Regions from separate parts of the Homo sapiens genome. Here region 2 is linked to region 1. The links come from fine-mapping of genetic effects on gene expression. A gene starts in region 1. The other region holds a variant in brackets. All regions are shown on one strand. Distances are from middle to middle.

The links.
Region 2: its variant is fine-mapped to the expression of ZDHHC2 in esophagus mucosa (GTEx, PIP above 0.99). The same link has a PIP of 0.9 or more in sun-exposed skin.

The regions. Positions count from the first base shown.
Region 1 is chr8:17,151,556-17,162,276 of GRCh38, reverse strand. ZDHHC2 (zDHHC palmitoyltransferase 2) reads right to left here and starts at 5,795. Exons shown (of 13, transcript NM_016353.5): 1 at 5,424-5,795. The coding sequence starts at 5,553. RefSeq lists a silencer at 4,977-6,336.
Region 2 is chr8:17,179,217-17,189,937 of GRCh38, reverse strand. ZDHHC2 (zDHHC palmitoyltransferase 2) reads right to left here. Exons shown (of 13, transcript NM_016353.5): 2 at 5,123-5,149; 3 at 3,513-3,607. Among named protein-coding and RNA genes, the nearest start is that of ZDHHC2, 28 kb to the right of the region's middle. The variant AGG/G (reference allele first, on the strand shown) is at 5,749.

The sequences.
Region 1 (10,721 bases):
AACATTTATTGCGCATTTGTACATGCTAAGACTGTGCTAATTGCCTTAAATGTTTTTCTCTAATAGGGTTTAATAGCAAATAGTAATGCTGCATTGTCCAGTACATCAAAAGAAAAGGAAGTCTCTGACACACTAAATGGAACCAAAAAAGCATTAAGCAGAGTCCTTTCTCTTACTCCCCTTTCCGACTTGACCATTTATATTAAAGTAAAATGGGAGCACGGATCAAGAGTTTGGAACATATCATGTTTTATACATTTGAATTTTTGATTTGAAGAAATGTTGAGTTTTTATTACCCTATTCACATAAATTCAAATCTTTAAAATATTCAACAATATCAAGAAAAGTCACAGAATATATTTTGAATCATATTGCCAACAACTAATAATTTCTTTTTTTTATTTTTTATTTTTTTGAGACAGGGTCTCGCTCTGTCACCCCAGGCTGAAGTGCAGTGGTGTGATCTCGGCTCACTGCAGCCTCTGCCTCCCCGGTTCAGGCAATTTCTTCTGCCTTAGCCTCCCGAGCAGCTGTGACTACAGGCACGCACCACCACACCTGGCTAATATTTGTATTTTTTGGTAGAGACAGGGTTCCACTATGTTGGCCAGGCTGGTCTCAAACTCCTGACCTCAAGTGATCCTCCCACCTTGGCCTCCCAAAGTGCTGGGATTACAAGGGTGAGCCACCGTGCTGGCCAATAAGTAATCATTTCTAAGGTGACGTAGGCGTTAAATGTTTTGCATACATCAGTTTTCTATGGATGTGCCTTACATTCCACTTAAAACTATTTTAATATTTAAAACAGTTGGCAAAACCAACTAATGGCAAAAACTGCAATTACTTTTGCATCAACTTAATAGAACATCTGTATTCCCAAGATCTACTGCCTGTTCTTTTTTTGTGAAAAATGCTTTATTGTCCTACACAGTTTTTAAAGTAATAGTTTAAGTATCAGGAATATCAAGATATTAATAATATAAAGCAACAGTTTAAAATCAATAACAAGAAAACATTTCTTCTTCTGTGTAGCTCAAATTCATTTCATGGTGGAAAACAACTGACAGCCCCAGCAGTCTCTATCCTTGAGCCTGCAGTGGCCTTCAATGAATGGTAGGTCATAACTTCACAGAATCCAAGTAGGAGGCTTTGTGTATTTTGTTCTTAGGGATGTTTGTTTTCTTGTTTGTTTAAAAGAATGAAAACATGGCAGCGTATCTCTCAAACTGATCCCTAAGTATTATAATCACTGTGGAATATAACAGGCTGCAATCACTGCTGAAGGATGTTTAGTAATAAAGACAGCAAAACTGCGAGTAAAACCTCAAGATTCTAGTGGTCTAGCTTCCCACATACTCCAAAGCTCAGCAAACTTTTGCCCAAGGGCCAAGATTGGCCAAATATTTTTGTTGAATAAAAGCCACGCCCATTTGTTAAAGTATCTTCTATGGCCGCTCTCTAAGATAGCAGAGTTGAGTGGTTGGAACAGAGATCACACGGCTTGCAAAGCCAAAAATATGTACTATATAGCCCCAAACTACAAAGCCCTTTAAATCTCTAAAATTGTGTAAAGACTGTTGGCTTATTTTCAGAGCTCTGTCAACTCTCTGTAAACGATAATAAAGTTAAAAAGAGTTGCTGCATAACTTCAATGGGCTAAGATATTTGGAGAGGGGTTTGCTGGGAAAAGGAGACATCTGGACATCTGCATTACAGCAGCTAAGGTCATAGCTGACACCTCCGCTAGGTAACTCGGAGGAAGGACATTGAACTTGTGGCAACTCTGGAATTTAGTTTAACTCTTTCGTTTAAAAATACAGAAGGGGTTAGCCTGGATGACCTTTAAGCTTTTGAAAATTCATGATCGTTTAAAATGACGTAACTAAAACCGTAAGCAAATTCAGAACTACATGACTGCGCAACATCATCATAAACGTCCCATAGCACCTGCCTAAGGAGCAGGAAAGTAATATATTTAAGAAAAATGGGAACTGAACTGGTTACACAAGTGTATGTGGAAGTTTCTTGTACTATTGAAACTTTTCAGTAAATCTGAAATAAAGAAAACGGTATGAAATAGTTAAAACAATTTAAATGTTAGCACTTAAAAGGGGAAACTTCAGTGAACCTTCTTCAACAAGCGAAGTTAACACAGCAGCAGCCATAAGGGATCTGTAAAACATAAACCACGTCGTGTGCTCGCTGAATGGAGCATGCCTGAGGCTGCAGACCTCCCTCATTCCCTCTCATAGTGCATCCTAAAGTTCCCCGTACAAATGTTACCTTTGAGTTTATCTTACTTGACGGAAACCAACCTAATATCTAAAGAGAGCAAAGAGAGTTAAAACACAAAAGAAGCCAGGAGTGGAGAGAGGGACAGGAGGGACAGGGGAGAGGGAAAAGGAGTGGTAAGAGAAGGAAAGGATGGAGGGGGAGGAATACAAATAGAAGAGCCTCGTTAATCAACAAACGAGATAAACGTGGTCCAAATGATTAGAAGTATAACTGTCTTTTGTGATCTTTTCTTTGGCAGAATAGGAAGCTGACTTAACCAAAAATACTTGACTCTCACACAATATATGTACATCCCATATATTTTACATATACACATATTCCAAAAAGAGAGGTTATTTTTATAAAATACAAACACTAAGCAAAAATTATGCTAACTGAAAAAGTGCCTAGAGAGCCACATACATCCACGTTGTTAAATATAGAAACTAACTGTAATGAGAATCATTATCTCCAGTTTCCAAGGATACCAGGATAAGCACTACTCCTAAATTGCAGTTCATTCAGCAAAGGGCACAGAATAATTTATATTCAGGGTCATCCCTAGCTGAGAGCAGATGTGGAAGGAGGACCAGGGTAAATCACCTTGTTTCTTCTATTCCATTTGCTACCTGATCCAGTTCCCAGCCCTCGACCCCCACACTCTGGTCCCAACCTTGGCCAATGTTTTATGGAAGAAATTTGGAAAATCTGCTTGTAAATGGCAACTTCCAAGAGAAAAAGAATCTTCAAAGGGCAGGGCAGTCTGAGATGTGATTAATACTGGGGGTAGGGTGGGGGCTGGTATTTCCATTTGCTTTGTCTGTGAAAAGGAAAGGAGTCTGGGAGTCTGGTTTTGTGTGTCAGTCACACTAGTCGCCATCTTTCCCAGTGCCTATAAGGAAATTTCAACTTCCCACTCGACCAAGGCTATGCAAAGCTTGCCACTCATAAACTGCCATGGTCTCTAGAATCAAATTCAGCTTCAACTTGTTCTTCCTTCTTAGACTCTAGAATCTAGATCTTTCATAACAATTACTTTTTGTTTCTACAGCAATAAAAATATAAAAGCTACTTTCTGAAAACCTAGGAGATAGTGCCTCTGAATCATTTATTTGTTTATTCAAGACCACTTACTGTTGTTTTCAATGTGGCAGGCATTGCGCCAGGCCAGGCAGACAGGCATTACGCCAGGCAGACAGGCATTGCGCCAGGCAGGCAGGGACAAGAAGTGATAGATAAGGTATCAATAACAGGCCACGCCACTTAGGCAGTTTAAAAAGAGGCATTCTTCCTCTTAGTCAAATCGTCACTTACTAAAATACTGATGCGGATTTTATGGATACTCTAGATTTGTCTTAAACTTACAGAAAGTACATATAAACATACGATTCAGATATAATACCAATTTTCCATTTAGTTCCTTCCCCATCACCTGTCTACCCAATACAATAATAAGATCTGCCATATAGCACCTCAGCTAGGAGCAGACATCCTTCTAACGGGCAGAAGAGCTCTCTCTGCCTTCAAATGCTTCCTCTTAATGGACAGGAGACACTGTACCAAGATAAGCGTCTTAGCTTAATGTGATAATACAGGAGAATAGGCTATTTTGATAATGAAGGCCTTCTAGGATGTCCCTTCTTTGCAGGTTATATTAATCGATACTGGTCACTGTTTTTAAGAGGACGAAGGAATGAAACACAACAAAGGTTCCCAACAGTTACGTAACATATACAGTCTATCTCAATAAGGCAAGCTATTTTAAGATTAACAGTTAATACAAAATTTACTACACGTCCTTTCCTATATATTTTAGATGACTTGACGACTGCATACCTAAATGCATCCTCATGATAATGCCTGTACAGCCTCATCTTTTCCCAACAACAGACTCAAGGTTTTTTTTTTGGACTATTAAGCTTGTTTCTAAATCCCTTCAAGTAATAACAGCAAATTTTAAAACTATATGAAATAAAAGTCTCGGTTCTCTTACAACTTACATCAGTGATTATTTTGATGTATTATTATGACACTTTCTCACAAGGCGCAACATTTTGAGGTAAGATGGCTTCAGACAAGATTTTATGTCTGAATCTTGAGGCTTTGAAAATGCTGAGCTTGTGAAGGCTCAATATAATAGGCCACTATTTCATCTTTTCCCTCGTCCCACCCAAAGCTAGCACTTGGTAGGGCAAAAACAGACACTTTGTTAGGTGGAGCACCAAACACAGAAAGCATTCACAAGTCACTGGCAGAAAGGTCATTTTCTGTTTTAACATCTTTTTCTGATAACCCAGATCAGTTTTCATAAAACCCCTGAAGGTAGAAACCAGCTTACATTAAGCGACATCATTGTACTCCCTACTTGTGCATAATAATCAACTTTTTAAAAAATTTTAATCTTCAGCATTAAAAGTATCCTACCCACCAATTCAGGAACCTCGAACTCGGACTGGAGCCACTTCGCTCTCTGGATGTAAAAACCTCAGACGATCACCTCTTTTTTTCTCTCCCTACTGTTCAAACACCTAAATTATGGTTTAGTGTGTTGCACATGTCCTCAAAAATACTTTCTAGTAGCTCACCTCCTCCACATCCTTTTAAACTAGAAAAGTGTCCAACTGGCAATCCTCAAATCATAAAGGCAGCAAAAACGCCCCTGAGCGCTGTCACAAATTTTTAACAAGTGCATTGACGCCAACCAGCAAGGGATCCAGCTCCGCCGCCAAGGCCAGCACCCCCGCGCGGGTCTGGCGCAGCTCGGGGCCGGGCCCAGCTCAGCCCTTCAGCCCCCGGCGCGCCTCGCCGGCCTCGGCCTCCCCTCTCCACAGCGGTCCCGGGGACCTTCCGCCCCTCTAGGGGGTGTGGCCGAGGCGGCGGCGGTGAGCGGAAGGCGGCGGGAGGCTCGGCGGCGAGTGCGGGGCGGAGGCGCCACCTTAACCCGAGAGTTGGGAGGGGAGGGCGAGGGGCGTGCGCGTGGAAGAAGCTGCCCCGAGGCTGCTTTTAGCGGCGGAGCCGGCGGGACGCGGCAGGTTGGCAGCGCCCGGGGCGCATCCGGGGGGCGAGAGCGGAGGAGCGGCTGAGCGTCCCGGGACAGTCGGGGTGGGCTGCGCTGCGCTGGGGGCGCCGCGGCGGGGGGCGCACTCACCTATGCACAGCTGGATGGCGTAGGCGTAGTAGGACCAGCCGAGCAGGAGGGTGATGAACACCACCGGGATCCAGTACAGCACCCGCCGGCACCGCCGCCTGGCGCTGCTGCCCGGGCCCGAGGGCGCCATCTTCCAGCCGCATCCACCTGCCCAGCTCCGCCGCCGCCCGCGGGCCTGGCTCCGGGGCGGGCTGGGCGGGCCCGGCACCCCTGGCTGGACGGGCTCCTGGGCGGCGGCGGGGTGCGCTGCGGCCACTGCCGCCGCCGTGGCGCTAACTCCCCATCCCGCAGCCCCGAGCCGGCGCGGCGGACTCCCGGCTCCTCAGCCCGGCGGAGGCGGAGGCGGCGGCTGCGAGCGGAGGCCGAGGAGGCGGAGGGGGGCGGTGAGGCGGCGGCGTCGGGAGGCTGCGCTCCGCCCCCGCCGTTCCCCGCCGCCCGGCCGCCTCCCCTGGCGTGGCAGGCTGCGCCCTCGGGCGGGCTCTGCGGGGATGCGGGGCCCTCGCTCGGGCCACCTCGCGGGCTCCCACCGTGGCCCCGCCGCCTCCGGCTCGGCCTCTGGATTCCGGGGAGGCGGGGGCTGCTGGGCGCAGGCCCCCGGGGCGGAGCGGGCGGTGGCGGCCCCTCCCTAGGCGCCCGGCACCCGGGGCAGTTAGGTCGCGAGCGCTTCCGCGCTTGGCGCAGGGCGGGGGTCGGAGGCGAGGCCGGCGGAGCAGCTGCTGCGCTCGGGACTCCGCGCCTGCCGCGACCCAGGCGCCCTGAGAAAGTCTGCAGCACCGAGGCCCGCGTCCCCGCAGCCCGCGTGGAACCCTCGCGCTTCAACTTGCGGGTCCCTGGGAGCCCGCGGGGGCCGCAAGGAGCCTCCCTTTACTACTCGGGCTTTCGGGGGAAGCAGAAATGCACAGCGAAGAGGGGGTGCCGAGCCGGCGTCTGGCATGGGAGGGGCTGTGGAGAGCGAGGAAGAAGCATTTTTGGCTGTGAATCCAGGCACCTCTGGAGTTAGAAACACAAGTTCTTTGCTCTGAGAATGTTGATGCTTTGGATAAATGATTGTGACAGGGGCCGTTCCCACTGTCCCCTCCCTCAAGTACGGTGGTTCCTTCCACCAACTATTTATTCTTTTCCTCAACCCGCTCCTCACTACGGTGTTTACTTTCGTGGTGGCAATTCCAAACTTAGCAGATAGCTGACTCCAAAGCGGTTCCCAAAAAACACCGTAAGGGAACCTAAAGGTAGTCAGCCCAAACCTCTGATTTTATGATTCACGAAATGGAAAATAAACAAATGCCTCCTTTGCTTTTCCTTCATCTGATTATGAACGCACCTGATCCACAGGGAAACATTTCAATCAATGAGTGTGTGTAAATTATGTGCATCACTACTATACATAATAGGCACAATTTTTCTTAACATTAGTGAATATGTGTATTTACACCACACAGCAACCACAGTGAATGAAATTACTTCTTATTCATGTGTAGAAGTAAAAAAAAAATACTGATTTACATGAATTCAGTCAAAGAAATTTAGCTCTGGTGTCTGCGATTATCTTTCTGTGACTGGATTACACAACAAGCTAATCTCTCCCGAAATAGCTACTATGTTACAGCCCCCCACCCCACATCTCTTTCCATTTCTCTTCAAAAATGCATAGAAAATGTCAGTCAAGTTTCTGTGGGACTTTAAATAATTGAAAAGAGAGACATATTATGTCCCAGTGAATCACTTGATTTTGCTGTAGCCTTTTATATTCTCTGTGGATATTCTGTATATTAATGTAAAAATAAAACTTCTCTGGATTCCTTAATGTTTTCCATGAATATTAATCCTGTGTTCCCCCCCAATCAGAAGAGAGTAAAAAACAGGAATTAAAACTTCCTCCTGGGACTGAAATACCCTCACAAAGAGAAGCAAATCAGTGACTGAAGGTCAATAGAGACCATCAAGGTATGAAAAGGAAGGAATCGGATTTTCCATACTGGAAACGGTGGAGAAAGTGCAAATAGTGCCTCTGTAGATCCTGGATGCGACGATGCCCTGTGCTCTTCCTCCTCTCACAGTCCTACAGGGTCTTGAAATCGGAAATGGAATAGCATTCTGCCCAGTTTTCACATCATCTACCCTTTTGGAAAAGTATGCAGGTGTCATATCTTTGAAGGAGCTACATTTTTATTACTCATCTAAGATGTTGTTTAATTGTTCCTATTTATAATAAATATTTGTGAAATATTTTCAACTTTTTTTTGTTATTGCCATTTTAAGGATACTACTATTACTGGGTTTTTCAAGTTCTCTTATCTTAAATACAGAAAAAGTCTGGATTAGGAAGAAGCATCTCCACAGCCACAAGATAACAGGATTGATCTCTGCGTAGTCTCTAATTAGGCATAAGCAGCACGCACAAATGTAAGCTCTTTGGTGAGTAGCCAATCTCTAGATACTAGTCTTTGATGAGAGTGGAAGGAGAGCTTTTATTTTGAGGTATAGAGAGCCTTTGATTTATTTTCTTTTTCTTTAGGACTACATAAACAGAAAAAATAATTTGAAGGTCATAGACAAGAAGAAACTTCACTAGAGACTTACTGTTTAGAAATACAGAAGATTCAACTCACGAATTTTAATTTAAATGTTCAATAAGCATAAGAAATTGTAGGTTTCATGTATAACTGTGATTAAACTGATATGACCACTTATGAAAAAGAAAGCCAGCCACAGCAAAGGAGGAAGAAGGCGACGCTAAGGAAGAGAAGAGACGAGCGGACAGCCAGGCAAGGAGGGGGGTGAGGGGAGTGACTGAGAACGGGAGAAAAGCCCCCTTGCTGGGTTCATCCAGTCCCTAATGACCATGACTCCATCCTCGCTAGGCCTCTGCCTGTATGCTCCTTGCACTCAGCGGTCTAGCAACATCATTCACCTCTCAAATTTTCACAACTCTTATTTTCAGTTCCTGCCCCATGAAGGAATCTCTCTTTTTTTGGGGGGGGGGGGCGGACAGAATTTCGCACTGTTGCCTGGGCTGGAGTGCAATGCCGCCATCTCGGCTCACTGCAACCTCCGCCTCCCGGGTTCAAGCGATTCTCCTGCCTCAGCTTCCCGAGTAGCTGGGATTACAGGTGCCCGCCACCGTGCCCGGCCAATTTTTTGTATTTGTAGTAGAGACAGGGTTTCAGTATGTTGGCCGAACTGGTCTCAAACTCCTGACCTGGTGATCCGCCCGCCTCGGTCTCCGGAAGTGTTGGAATTACAGGTGTGAGCCACCGTGCCCAGCCCAGGAACCTTAAACGTTCCTCCTCTCCCTCCAGCCCAGTCCCCCAAATTCTTGAGTTCCCAAACCTCAAGTCTGCCGTACTTTCATGATTAATACTGCTAATCTTCCTTCTGCCTGCAGATCCAGATTACCATTTTAACATAGTCCCTTGCATAGTATGAATCAAACATAGCATGCTAGCCAAACCCAGGAAGGCGTGGACGCACCTGCTGCTAGAGAACACAGATCCCCCTTAATGTTGCCTATGCCAACCTCATCTCAAGCTTTTCAGCCAAAACACCTACCAGAAACTATTAGGACACTTGCTTGATATTTACTCCTTCCTTTTGGAAGGGTTCTTAGAGGGCAACATTGCAACAAGATATGAGGTCAGTCGTATTAGTCTCATGTATATGAGACGTTGATTGTCTTGAGTTTGCTAAGAGGGTATGATACTTCACAAATACAAGGAGTTCTAAATCTTACAAGGATTGGAAGCAATGAAGCTGAGGTCTGGATCTATATCTTATTTACTAATGGCTCTCCCATCCTTACTAGAGTGGTCTGCATGAATACTGATAGATTCTCTTTCATTATTTTCTCAAACTTAATCTTATCACTCTTTTGGGGGAGAAGAGCTCTTTAGAAGGCAGCAGTCCATGACATCAGTGACTCCAGTGTCAATGTGCATGTTTATAATAGCGGTCAAAACATTCTCTGTGGGAGAAGAATAGCATGCCTAAACCACTTTTTGTTTCTGGAGATACATAAAATAAAAGAAAAGGAATCGCGCTTAGGGAATGTAGGAATGAAGTAATGCTTAGATATGTTTTGGCTGTCAGAGATTTATGTTTGCAATTCAGCTGTAATTATATTGAATAAAATGGGAGATAATTTCAAAAGCCTAAGGATGTCTCTGTATACAGTTGATTGGGTCGAAACACTGGGACAATGTAAAGTGGAGCAAACTGTCCCTGGCAAACCTGCCTTTCAGGCACACTAGGGCTTTCACGGTAGCATTAATGTGTCCTGCCACTAGATGGCAGGCACACACCAAGCAGTGCAGCAGTCTTCACCTTTTCTCCATAGATTTCAATAGTTATCAACTGTTAGCTTAAGCAAGGCAATTATAAATATGAATTATAACTTCATGAACAATTATATATCATTGTAACTAATTATAATTATGTTATAATTGGCCAGGCGCGGTGGCTTACGCCTGTAATCCCAGCACTTTGGGAGGCCAAGGCGGGCAGATCACCTGAGGTCAGGAGTTTGAGAGCTGCCTGGCCAACATGGCGAAACCCCATCTCTACTAAAAATACAAAAAATTAGCTGGGCGTGGTGGCGGGTGCCTGTAATCTCAGCTACTTGGAAGGCTGAGGCAGGAGAACTGCTTGAACCTGGGAGGTGGAGGCTGCAGTGAGCCAAGATCACGCCAATGCACTCCAGCCTGGGCAACAAGAGCAAAACTCCTTCTCAAAACAAAAAGTTATGTTATAATTATACAGTTTTTATATTATAATTTAATGGCTAACGATTAATAAAAACGACAACCCTATTCAAAAAATTTAAAAGACTTAAAGCATTTTTCTATATAGTAAATCGTTCTGATTCTGCGTGCACTTCTTTAGAATTCGCACTAAGGTCAATCTCTTTGGAAATAAAATAGGAAATTTTCATTGAAATAATATTTTTGCTTACACTGTTTCCCTTCTTTGCCCCTAAATGGGGAGGGGCACTGTCTATGAACCCAAAAGGTGAGCAGACATGTCCTTCCAGTGGACTGACACAGCTATACTATGGATCTCTAAGGGGTGATACAATGTCCGAAGTTCAACTGGAGATTATTAGAAGTGGCCGTTGTGGAGTTGAGAGCTGAACAGCCAGCAGAGAGTGACCAAGGGCAGCAGAATTCTGCAGTGTAGTGGCAAGTGTCCAGGGATATTAAGAGCAGCAATGGCATCCTAGGTTGACTGTTCTTGGTGGCAAGATCTTGGCCATGCACCAGCTTCCTTTGTTCCAGCTCAAGCTTGATTCTCCAGGCTTCCTTT
Region 2 (10,721 bases), 28 kb before region 1:
TCCCACACAGTAGCACTAGATACCTTAATTGTTTCATGTTCAAAGCCAGTGGCTCCATCTGTAAAATAGTAAAAAATAGTATCTATCTCAAACAGTTGTATGACTAAGGTACGTCTTTTGTAGAAAAATCACACAATGAAGCCTGATACCGTTATAATGTCACTGTCATCGATTTGACTGCTCCTTCAATGCTGTGTTCTTTCTTCCGTGTGTTTCATATCCTTTTGCCACTCTGTCCAATCCACTATTTCAAACCTTCTCTACTCTCCCAACCCTTAATTAACCCACTTAGGTCTTCACTGTTAGCCAATGATGTCATATATAATTTTAGAGAGAAGTTAGAAGTCACTTCAACTTCCTGCCAAGGCCATAAAAATAAACCTGCATGTGTATGAATAACTTCTTCCCTACTTTTAGTCACTTAAAAAGTATCTCTTGAGTACCTTCTATAGGTCAGACACTGCTTTAGGCACTGGTGATGAAGCAGTGAACAAAGATACATTTCACGCCCTTATGGAACCTACATTCTAACGATGGTGTATTTTCAAAAGTATTCAACAAATAAATATGCAGTGTGTTGCCATGATGGTAAATGTTATGGAGAAAAATCCAGGAAGGTAAGGTGCAGGGAAAGCCGAGGGTAGTGGGGTTGCTATTCTATGTTGAGTCATCACAGACAGCCTCAATGATAAGGTACCATTTGTATAAAGACATCAAAAAGGTGAGAGATTTGCCTTGTCTTTTGAAAGGATCACTTTGGCTACTGTGTTGAAAATACACAAGAGGAGGCCAAAAAAAAAAAAAAAAAAACATAACAAAACACCAAAAAAAAAAACCCAACAAAAAGAAACCTGTTAAGAGGCTACTGCAAATCTATAAATGAGAGAGGATGGTGGCTTGGACCGGGGTGGGAGCAGGGAGCAGTGCGGCACATGAGTTCACATTGTGGCCATACTCTGAGGGTGAGGGTATAGAATTTTCTGATTGACTAGATGTGGCGTCCGAGAGAAAAAGAGTAGCCAAGGATGACACCAATGTTTCTGGCCTGAACAGAAGAGTGAAACTGTCATTACTGACATAAGAAAACTTTAGGACTAGAAGAACTGGGGAATTAAATGAGAAATCAGAAGTTTGTTTTCAGTTGTGTTGAACCTGAAATTTCTATTAGATGTCAAATAGGGAGCTGGAAATGTGTCAGGCGTTTATTAGCAAGCACCAGGCTAATATATTAATCTGAGAGCTGCGGCACTGGGGTGACACATAAAGTCACAGAACTCAATGAAATCCACGAGGGAATAAATGCAGGTATATAAGAAGAGAAGTCCAGGGATTAAGCTCTGGAACATTCCAATGCTTTGGCAGTCTAGGAGCTGAAGAGGAACCAGCAAAGGAGGCCAAGAAGGAGCTGCCAGTATGAATGGAAAATAAATATATTATTTCCATGAGAAAGGGGTAAGAATATTTTGGAAAGGAAATAATGCCATGTTGTATACAGGAAACTATGTGTAGTTAAGAACTACTAGAGTATAAAGTATAAAGTCAGAAATTGAGACAAGAGCTGCTATTGCTAGGCAGAAGAGACTGAGCTTTCCCCTGTGGGATATATGGAATCACAATAGATACAAGCAGTAGAGGGAAGGCGTTACATTGGTTTTTAGGAGGACCACTCCAGCTTCAGGGTATTGGATGAAGTTTTGTGGGGTTCTGGGAAGGAAAGGTAGGCCAGGCTGTAAACAGAAAACCTTAAGATGGTTTTCCAGTATGACCAGACAAACATTGCAAAAAGTAGATGATAGGCCATTAGGCACACAACTAAAATGAGAGAAACATAATTATCATTATAATATGCAAGTACAGACTAAAATTATGGTATTCACAAATGATCTGCTTGTTTTAAAATAACCAAATTACCAGGAGAAGAATACAATATCTCAGACAAGGGAGATGATGAAGACCCAGAATTAGAGCAGTGATAAACTGCCCATTAACTGACATAAGAAACAGATGACTCACAGTCTGGGGAAGGAGAAGGTGATGACGTCTGTTTTTGATGTTTTGTATTTGAGATGTTGGTGGAATTATCAAGAAGCTATGCTTGGCAGGGGGATACATAAGTTTGAAATTTAAGGGGGAGTTTAGAACTCAAAACAGATTTGGGAGTTATCAAAACAGAGGTTGTATGTAAACTACCAGAGTGGATGAGACTACCTATGATAGAAGTCAGTATTTTTCTTCAAACCTACTACTAGGGACAGGATGAGGGTAAGAGAGATGATGGAAAAGAAGCAAATATGGTAGGAGGAAGGAAAAAAAAAGACTGGGATAGAAAAAGAAGTGGAGAATAGAAGAAAAACAGGCAATAGATAGGCATTCTAAGCCAGGCATACCATTAATTCTGCGCAAACATCTGTGGTTTTTACCATCCTCTCCCAAGCCAAATAGCATATTTATTGGCTTTTTTGACCAAAGTTGCATTTCAAACTGATTACTTCAGTAAACAGTCTACAGTGATGCTTTTTTTTTTTAAACTTGGCTTACTAAAACTACACTGTTATTAGAGTTAGCAAAGTATATTTTTATTCAACAATGTACTGGGCTATACGCCAAGGATACAAAAATGAGTGAGACACAATTCTTTGCTCCAAGAACGTTTAACCAGGATGCATGATCCAGAAACAAACAGAATGATCTTTTCAACATGCAAATTTGATCCATCACTCTACTTAAAGCCCTCTGAAGCAGAGATTGCTAGTTGTCTCTCAGTAACCATATTTCTCTTCTTCTCTCATGTTTAACATGGTCATCGAGAAGAAAGGCTACACTCCCCCCTTCCTTGTGGGTAGATGTGGCCATATAACCAACTTCTAAATGTAAGTGGAAATGACGTCAGCAATGTCTAGAAAGTGTTCTTGAAGAGGAGGACATTTACTTCTCTTTCCTACTTTCTTTGGTCTGCTGGCTACAATGTAGATGTGATGGTTGGAACCGCAGAGTCCCCCTTAGACCAAGAGGGGACCTTGGAAATGGAGGCTACACGTGGCAGAGAAACAAGATAGAAGGAGTGTGGGCACCTGGAAGCTGTGGACTAGCTACAGACTTTTTGAATGCAGAGAAGATTAGCTAAGCCATTATTTTGTTGTTGTTGTTTCTGGTGGCTGATAACCAACTAATACACCTTTAATGTGATAATTATCATAGAATTATGTCTACCTTCTAGCTCTATTTTATTATCTATCTTTGTCTACCTATCCATCCATCCTGATGTCTGACTCTAAAGTGGAAATGGAATTCATAACAGATTCAATACAGAAAATGCAGTGCTTATCTGGTGAAAACACTAATATTTCCAGGTGAAAATTCAAGTATTTATTAACAGAAATACTAATTTTTTTAATCTAAAAAGTCACTAAACTCAATAAGTTTGCAACATTAAAATAAAATTCGTTCTTCAATAATACATCAGTATTATTGATTTCTATTATTAGAATAATTTCGTTAATATTTTAACTTACTTCTTTTGAAGGATTCATTGGTAATGTAAAGATAGTTTTCCAGTATGACCAGACAAACATTGCAAAAAGTAGATGATAGGCCATCAGGCACACAACTAAAATGAGAAAAACATAATTATCATTATAATATGCAAATACATACTAAAATTATGACAGTCACAACCGATCTGCTTGTTTTAAAATAACCAAATTACCAATTATAATACATTATGAAAGTTCCTTTACTTTATACTAGAATAAACACAACTCAACGAATTTATTTCCAAAGCCAAGAGTTTTTTACAAAAATTCCTAAATGCATAATGAGATCTATGCCCATGAATAAAAGCCTCCCATCTGTAGACAGACCATCTATTGGCAAAATCACTAACAAGGACCTTTTCTAAATTGTAAAAATGAGGCAGTTACGCCTCCAAATTTAAACAGCAAACACAGCATTAAAAACAAGTGTTAAAACACTCAGGCTTTAAGAACTTTGCTTTACTGACACAGATAACAAAGGCAGTTCCTATTTGAGAAGCTGTTTGCTTATTTGCTTGGCTCTAGTCAAAGCTGGTGTAATGATAACACATTTAAATGGAGAACATCTGGACAAAGAGATTTCCTTCAGTGGGAGTTCAAGTGTCTTATTTATTACATGGGACAATTGTTTTAAAAAAGTGTTCTGAATACTTTTTTCAGTAATGCATATAAACACACTCTGGGTGGTGTTATAAAGTCTTGAAATACTATCCAAAATTTTCTTTTCTTTTCTTTCCTTTTTTTTGAGACAGGGTCTCACTCTGTCGCCCAGGCTGGAGTGCAGTGGCTCACTGCCACCTCCGCCCCCTGGGGCTCAAGCAATCCTCCTACCTCAGCCTCCTGAGTGGCTGGGATTACAGGCATGCCCCACCTCACCTGGCTAATGTTAGTATTTTTCTTTTTTTTTTTAAGTAGAGACAGGGTTTCACCATGCTGGCCAGGCTGGTCTTGAACTTCTGACCTCAAATGATCTGCCCGCTTTGGCCTCCCAAGGTGCTGAGATTACAGGCATGAGCCACTGTGCCCGGCCCAAATTTTAAATATTAATTTTCTATATGGTGATAATGCTTCCTTCTGGGTAATACATTAATACACAATTTAATTCTGTAAGATATCATTGAATAAAATATGCTAATTTAAATATAGCATATTTGGCATTTTAAAACTTTAATAGCAATTTTAAATTTTTCTAAAGAATGAGGATACTCATAGAATCATTAAAAATTTGAATTATTCAATAAGGCACTTAAATCGGTGTGAGATGACTAAAGCCAACAATATTTTTCATAAATTATGTAGGTGACTCAGTTATAAGTTCATAATCTGAATTAGGAAAGGAAATTGTTGATATCCCTATACCTCAAAGCCTTAAGAATCTCTGGCACAATGACAGCCATTTCAGGATAGAATTCTTTGCCAAGGGTCTGACAGAATTCAATCTGCAAACTTAAGAGAAATGAGACATCTTTAACCCTAGCTTGTCTCCACATTCTCAAACAACAATTTATTAATCCCAACCAAATCTAAGTGAATACAATTTTTTTTCAAACTATTTAAAAAATCTATAACATTAATATAATCTAGCTTACCTTGTTCGCCAGTGTTTTCCATGGACACTGTAAAGAGAAAAAAAGGTAATAGGTTACATGAAGCTTATGGCAAACGGGGCTTGACACAGACATAAGGCATTTAAGTAGCTTAATAATGTGGCTTCCCTTCAAACCAACATTCTCTAAATATTTATTCAACTTTATTTGGAGGAGAGGTGAGCACAGTGTGGAGAGGGTGCAGGAAACGGCTGGAGGCTGCAGTCAGCCATGCCTCCATTGCGCACTTCAGCCCTGGCTCCTGTCCTGCGGAACAAAACTTGTCAAGTGTGCCCCTTGCGGGTCTTATTTCTGTATCATTTGGTTGACTGGTTTTCCTTCCAACTATAGAGTTCAGATAAAAGCAATGCTCTCCAGGTCATTACATTTCCGCAGGCATTTATTGCTCTTGATAAACTGGCAACCACCTGGTGAGCTTTCCACAAAGAATAAAATGTGTCCACAGCACACACTTTTTTTCCCCCTAATTTCTAAAAGTACAAATGCTTATGCACAGTGACTTTACTTGCTCCCTGTTGCACAACGAAAGGCCAGGCAGTGCTGGGAAACTGCCACTCCTCAGCGGCTGTTGTAAATATTCCAAGCTAGCAGGTATTATAGATGAGGAC[AGG/G]GGCCACAAGCACTAAAGCAAGCTGCGGCAAGAAGTTGTATTTAGTAATCAAGACATATGTACGCCTTTTGTATTGTCTATTTGTTTTCCCATTTGGTCTCTCTCTTTGTACTAGAGTCTTTGGAAGTTTTGCCCTATCTCAGCTGTAGCAAGTCTGACTTTGTATATTTTTGTCCTTATTCAGCTTTTCAAAAGGGCACGGGACCTCAGGCCTTGGTGCTGGAATGAAATGCGCTGCCTTCTGAAGCCTGGAACCAGAGGGTAGTGTGAGAAATTTTTAAGATTGCTCAGTCCAACCAATCTCCTGCCCAAGAGAGCTACCAAATATAAGTTCAGGCATTTCTAGAGCTAGCAGAAGCCCGTAGTTTCTTGGAGGGCAGCCCGTTCCACTGTTGGATTGCCCTAAGAATAAGAAAATTCATCCTTCCAGGGTGTTGAAATTGGCTGCTTTGTGACTTTTACCTGTGATACTGAGGCTTCCAAACCATAGCAACAAACAGAAGATCTAAATGACAGATCTTCACATATTTGATGTTATAGTGTCCCCCTTAAATGTTCTAGTTTACACCAACTAATATATGGTTTCCAGATCTCTTACTAACGTAGATGTGGCATCTGTAAATGCTTCCTAGGTTCTCCACTCCTTTTAACATTTCTGATCTCCAGAATGAGACAGGCAGGCCTGGATGACCTTCGATTTACAAATGGCCTGTTCTCCAAGTCCGCTTGTAAGTCAGAGGCTAGTCAGAGTTTGCTTTCTCATAGAATCCCTGAAGCAGCTCATCTGAGGGCACAGGAGAGGCTTGAGGCAAGCCTGTTTTTTAATATCTGAACCTACCGCCACAGGTATGCATTTCTTTCTAGACACTGACTACACCCTGTCTTCAAAAGTGCTCCAAAATTGACAACTCTTTTCTGGATCAAAATTTCCAATCCTTCAGTGGAGCCAATCTAAGGAAAGGAAAAGCAATTTGACTCCATTTGTGCATTTATATATGAATGACCCTTACTGACCATTCCAGAGGTGCTGGTGCTTGCATACAAATGTGTTTGCTACTCCACTGACTCGAGTGGAGAGAACTGAAAACTAAGACAAAGTGACATTTTTGAAAAAGGTATAGTTAGGGGCTGGGCACGGTGGCTCACACCTGTAATCCCAACATTTTGGGAGGCCAAGGTGGGTGGATCACCTGAGGTCAAGAGTTCAAGACCAGCCTGGCCAACATGGCAAAACCCCGTCTCTACTAAAAATACAGAAAATTAATCAGGTGTGGTGACACGCGCCTGTAATCCCAGCTACTTGGAGGCTGAGGCAGGAGAATCGCTTGAACCCGGGAGGCAGAGGTTGCAGTGAGCCAACATCACGCCACTGCGCTCCAGCCTGGGCAACAGAGTGAGACTCTGTCTCAAAAACAACAACAAAAAAAAAGGTGTAGTTGGTACGAGTTGCTAATCTTTTTGACCTGGACCACTACTCTATAAGCCTGATATGCATTCAAAGACTTTGTTTTTAAAGCTATTATTATTATTATTATTATTGCCATTCACAGTTTGCTTTTCCCTAAATGTAATTCAAAATCCACAGATGTTCTATTTTTTTAAAAGTACACAACTTACACATAAATTCATCTTTATAGTAAATAATTGTGTAACATTTGTAGAATGAAAGGGATCAGTTCAAAAGGCTGTATCCAATTACACTTTCGCCAAGATTATGAGCCGGTTCAATTTCCTGTAAACGTAACTCTGTTTAATTTTTGTCGACATCATAGGCCTAAATAAAAATCATTATTTTAGCATTCATTTCCCTTATTATTAGTGCAGTTTGGCATTATTTTTAAAACACTATGATTGGGATTTCCTTTCTCTTCTATGTGAATGATTATTTTCCTATTGGCCTACTTAGTTACTGAGAGCCTTTTATATATTCTGGACAGAAATCTCATATCTGTTATATATATATTGCAAATAAAACTGCATATAGCTATTTTAAATGATTTAATAAGTACTAGCAACATTTTTATCACTTGCCACTGATTAAGTAACATTATCAAAGTTTGCAAATTAACTTATTTCATTAACAGATATATGGACTATGCAAGGTTTTGCTTTGTGATACTCAGGAAATGAATGTTCTTTCAACCATGGTTACTTAATTAGTAAATCAGTGATTTACCTTGTAATTTTCAGTTTAATGGCAGAGTTGTCAAGTTCAAAGTTTCCTTTCTCACAGAGTAAAAACACATAAAATACAAAGTTATTGTCAAATGCAAATATTTTTGTTCAAAAGTAACTGTTCAAGAAAAGATTGCTCAAATTTAGCCTCAAACACTTTTCTAATATTTATGTATATAAAGATAACATATGAAAAATAGAGACTCATTTTTGAAACAATATAGATGGTAATCAAATATAATTTGATTATTTATAACAATACAAAAACTAAATAGCAATACTGAACATAATTGGGACAGGTCTTCTAAAAATAACTATTGGTTTTAATGTGGATTTTGAGTTTTAATCCAGGATTATTTAATTTTCTTACTTCACAGACAGAATTTCAATTTGTTTGATTTAACAATGATGCTGATACCTATTCTTCAATTTTTACCATAGAGAAATTTCAAGTGTTGTATAGCCTTCTTTATCTCATTTCCTTTAAACCAGTTATTGAGATAAATTAATAGTTATTTCAATTTTTGTCAACAGAAAACTGAGGTTTACTCAGTTTTTACTAAAGCAAATGAGCTTTATTCTCAAAGTCACGACGAATAGCACATTAATTCTACCTTAGAAATTCTTTTATTTTCAATTTAAACATTTCCTGCCTGTAACAAAAACGTTACAACTTCCAGCTCTGCTGGATCATATTAAAATTAATTCCTCATTAAAGCACAAGAACTGGCATAGAGCATCTGCCCCATTAATGTTTACTGAGTAAGAGACTGACTTAGACAAACAGACCATGACAACTAATTTGAATCACATAAAACTGGTATATCAAAGCGGACATATGAGAAGTATTCATTTTTCTTTTGTGGGCATGAAAAACTCAAGAGAAAAGTTATTTCTATTACCATGTTAGCTTAGCACACCATAGCACTCAACTGATAGTTGAAAAAAGCGAAAGTAATCTCTTCTGTGAGGTGAAGAAAACACTTCTCTAAAGAGAGGAGAGAGGGAGAAGACAAAATGGTTCCTGTTCCTTTAAAAAGGAAAAAGCTGAGGGAGATACTGGCTTCAACTGGGCTTCAAGCAACTTTGAAGACAGACAGGGTCTATAAGTTCACAGGGTTCCCTCCACCCCCAGCTTGGTTTTGGTTCTTCCTTAGTATTGTACTTTTTTATAGTTGAATTTGTCAAAATGGAAAAGAGATTATTACTAAGCATAATAGCACCAAAGAGCAATGGCTGGGGATAAAGAAGGCAAGGTCCAATCCTGCCTCTGCCACTTGCTGGCTTACATAAGCTATCCCACTTATTCCACTACAAAATGAGGGTGATTGCTGCAGCAGTAGCATTAGGGCTGTAGCGAGAATTCAAAGGGACAATAAAACAATGTACTTAACACAGTGCCTTGTGTAGAGTAAGCCCCATGAATGTACAATTATAATATATCATCTTTCATCTTGATAATATTAACTGTAATGTATAACGTATAGGAAAGGGGGCTAAACAAGGAAGACAAATTACAAAGAGAAAAGTAATATTTGTACAGGCTCCTGAAAGAAATAAATGCAAAATGTTGAACAAAAATAGACTTGGCGAGTGAAAATAAAAGGTGAAAAATAATGTAAATCTGAATTATCTTATAAGTCAATTGCCTTTTTAAACGGATGTGTCATTTCAGAAACTTGTTTAAACCAAAAAAGTGGTCTTCATTCTTAACACAGAGTAATGATGAGATGTTAAAACTTCGATCTTGATGTGCCAGTTAGTCCTTTTGAGAACTTAAATGTGAAAGAATCTATTTTGGATAGGCACTGTTTAACTTAATGAATAAAAACAATTACTTTAAAAAAAAATAAAGACCTAAATCTTATAATCACCCCAAAGAAGTTAGGTGCAGTTTATTCCTGGGAATTAAAAGCATTGCTATTATTACACTAAAATATTTACCAATCCTACATCTGGTGGATGGCACCATTCATACCATCTAAATACACACAATAGGAACACTGTGAATCACAATTTTAATTTTAATTTCAAACACTTATTTGCCTCATTTTATCTTGGATTAGCCTAATTTCTTTTTGGTCCATGCCCTACAATGATAATATTTTGCTTTAGCAATTTCTAATCTTCCAATATACCTCCAGAACTTCAAGTTCCTCTGTGATTAATTGTGGGAACTGCAGCACTTTCTTGGCCCTGACGGTATATAGGAAGAGAGAAAGTGAAAAAGGTAAATTACTACTATAGTTACCAAGAATGTTCCTGTTTGCCAAAAGTAAAATTATGGCCTTCAGGAATCACATTTTGGGCTGGGCGGCCCACGCATGAAATGCCAGCACTTCGGGAGGCCAAAGTGGGAGGATCACTTAAGGCCAAGAGTTGGAGATCAGCCTGGACAACACATTGAGACTGTGTCTCTACAAATAAACTTTTTTTTTTAGCTGGGTGTGGTGGCACTGCCTGTGGTCCCAGCTACTTGGGAGACTGGGGGCAGGAGAACTGATTGAGCCCAGTAGTTCAAGGCTGCACTAAGCTATGATCACATCACTGTACTCCAGCCTGTGCGATAGAGTGAGACCCTGTTTCTTAAAACAAAAAGAAGAAGAAATAAAGAAAACAAAAAAAGAACTTCATCTTAAAATCTAGAACCATCATCGATGCTACAAAGCTTGTAGATTGGGTCACCAGTTGTATTATCTGGCTGCGCTTTACGCTCACCCCCTCCACCGCCACTGATCATTCCCGTAAGAAAGACAGGACAACCAGGCACAGTGGCTCAAACCTCTAATCCCAGCA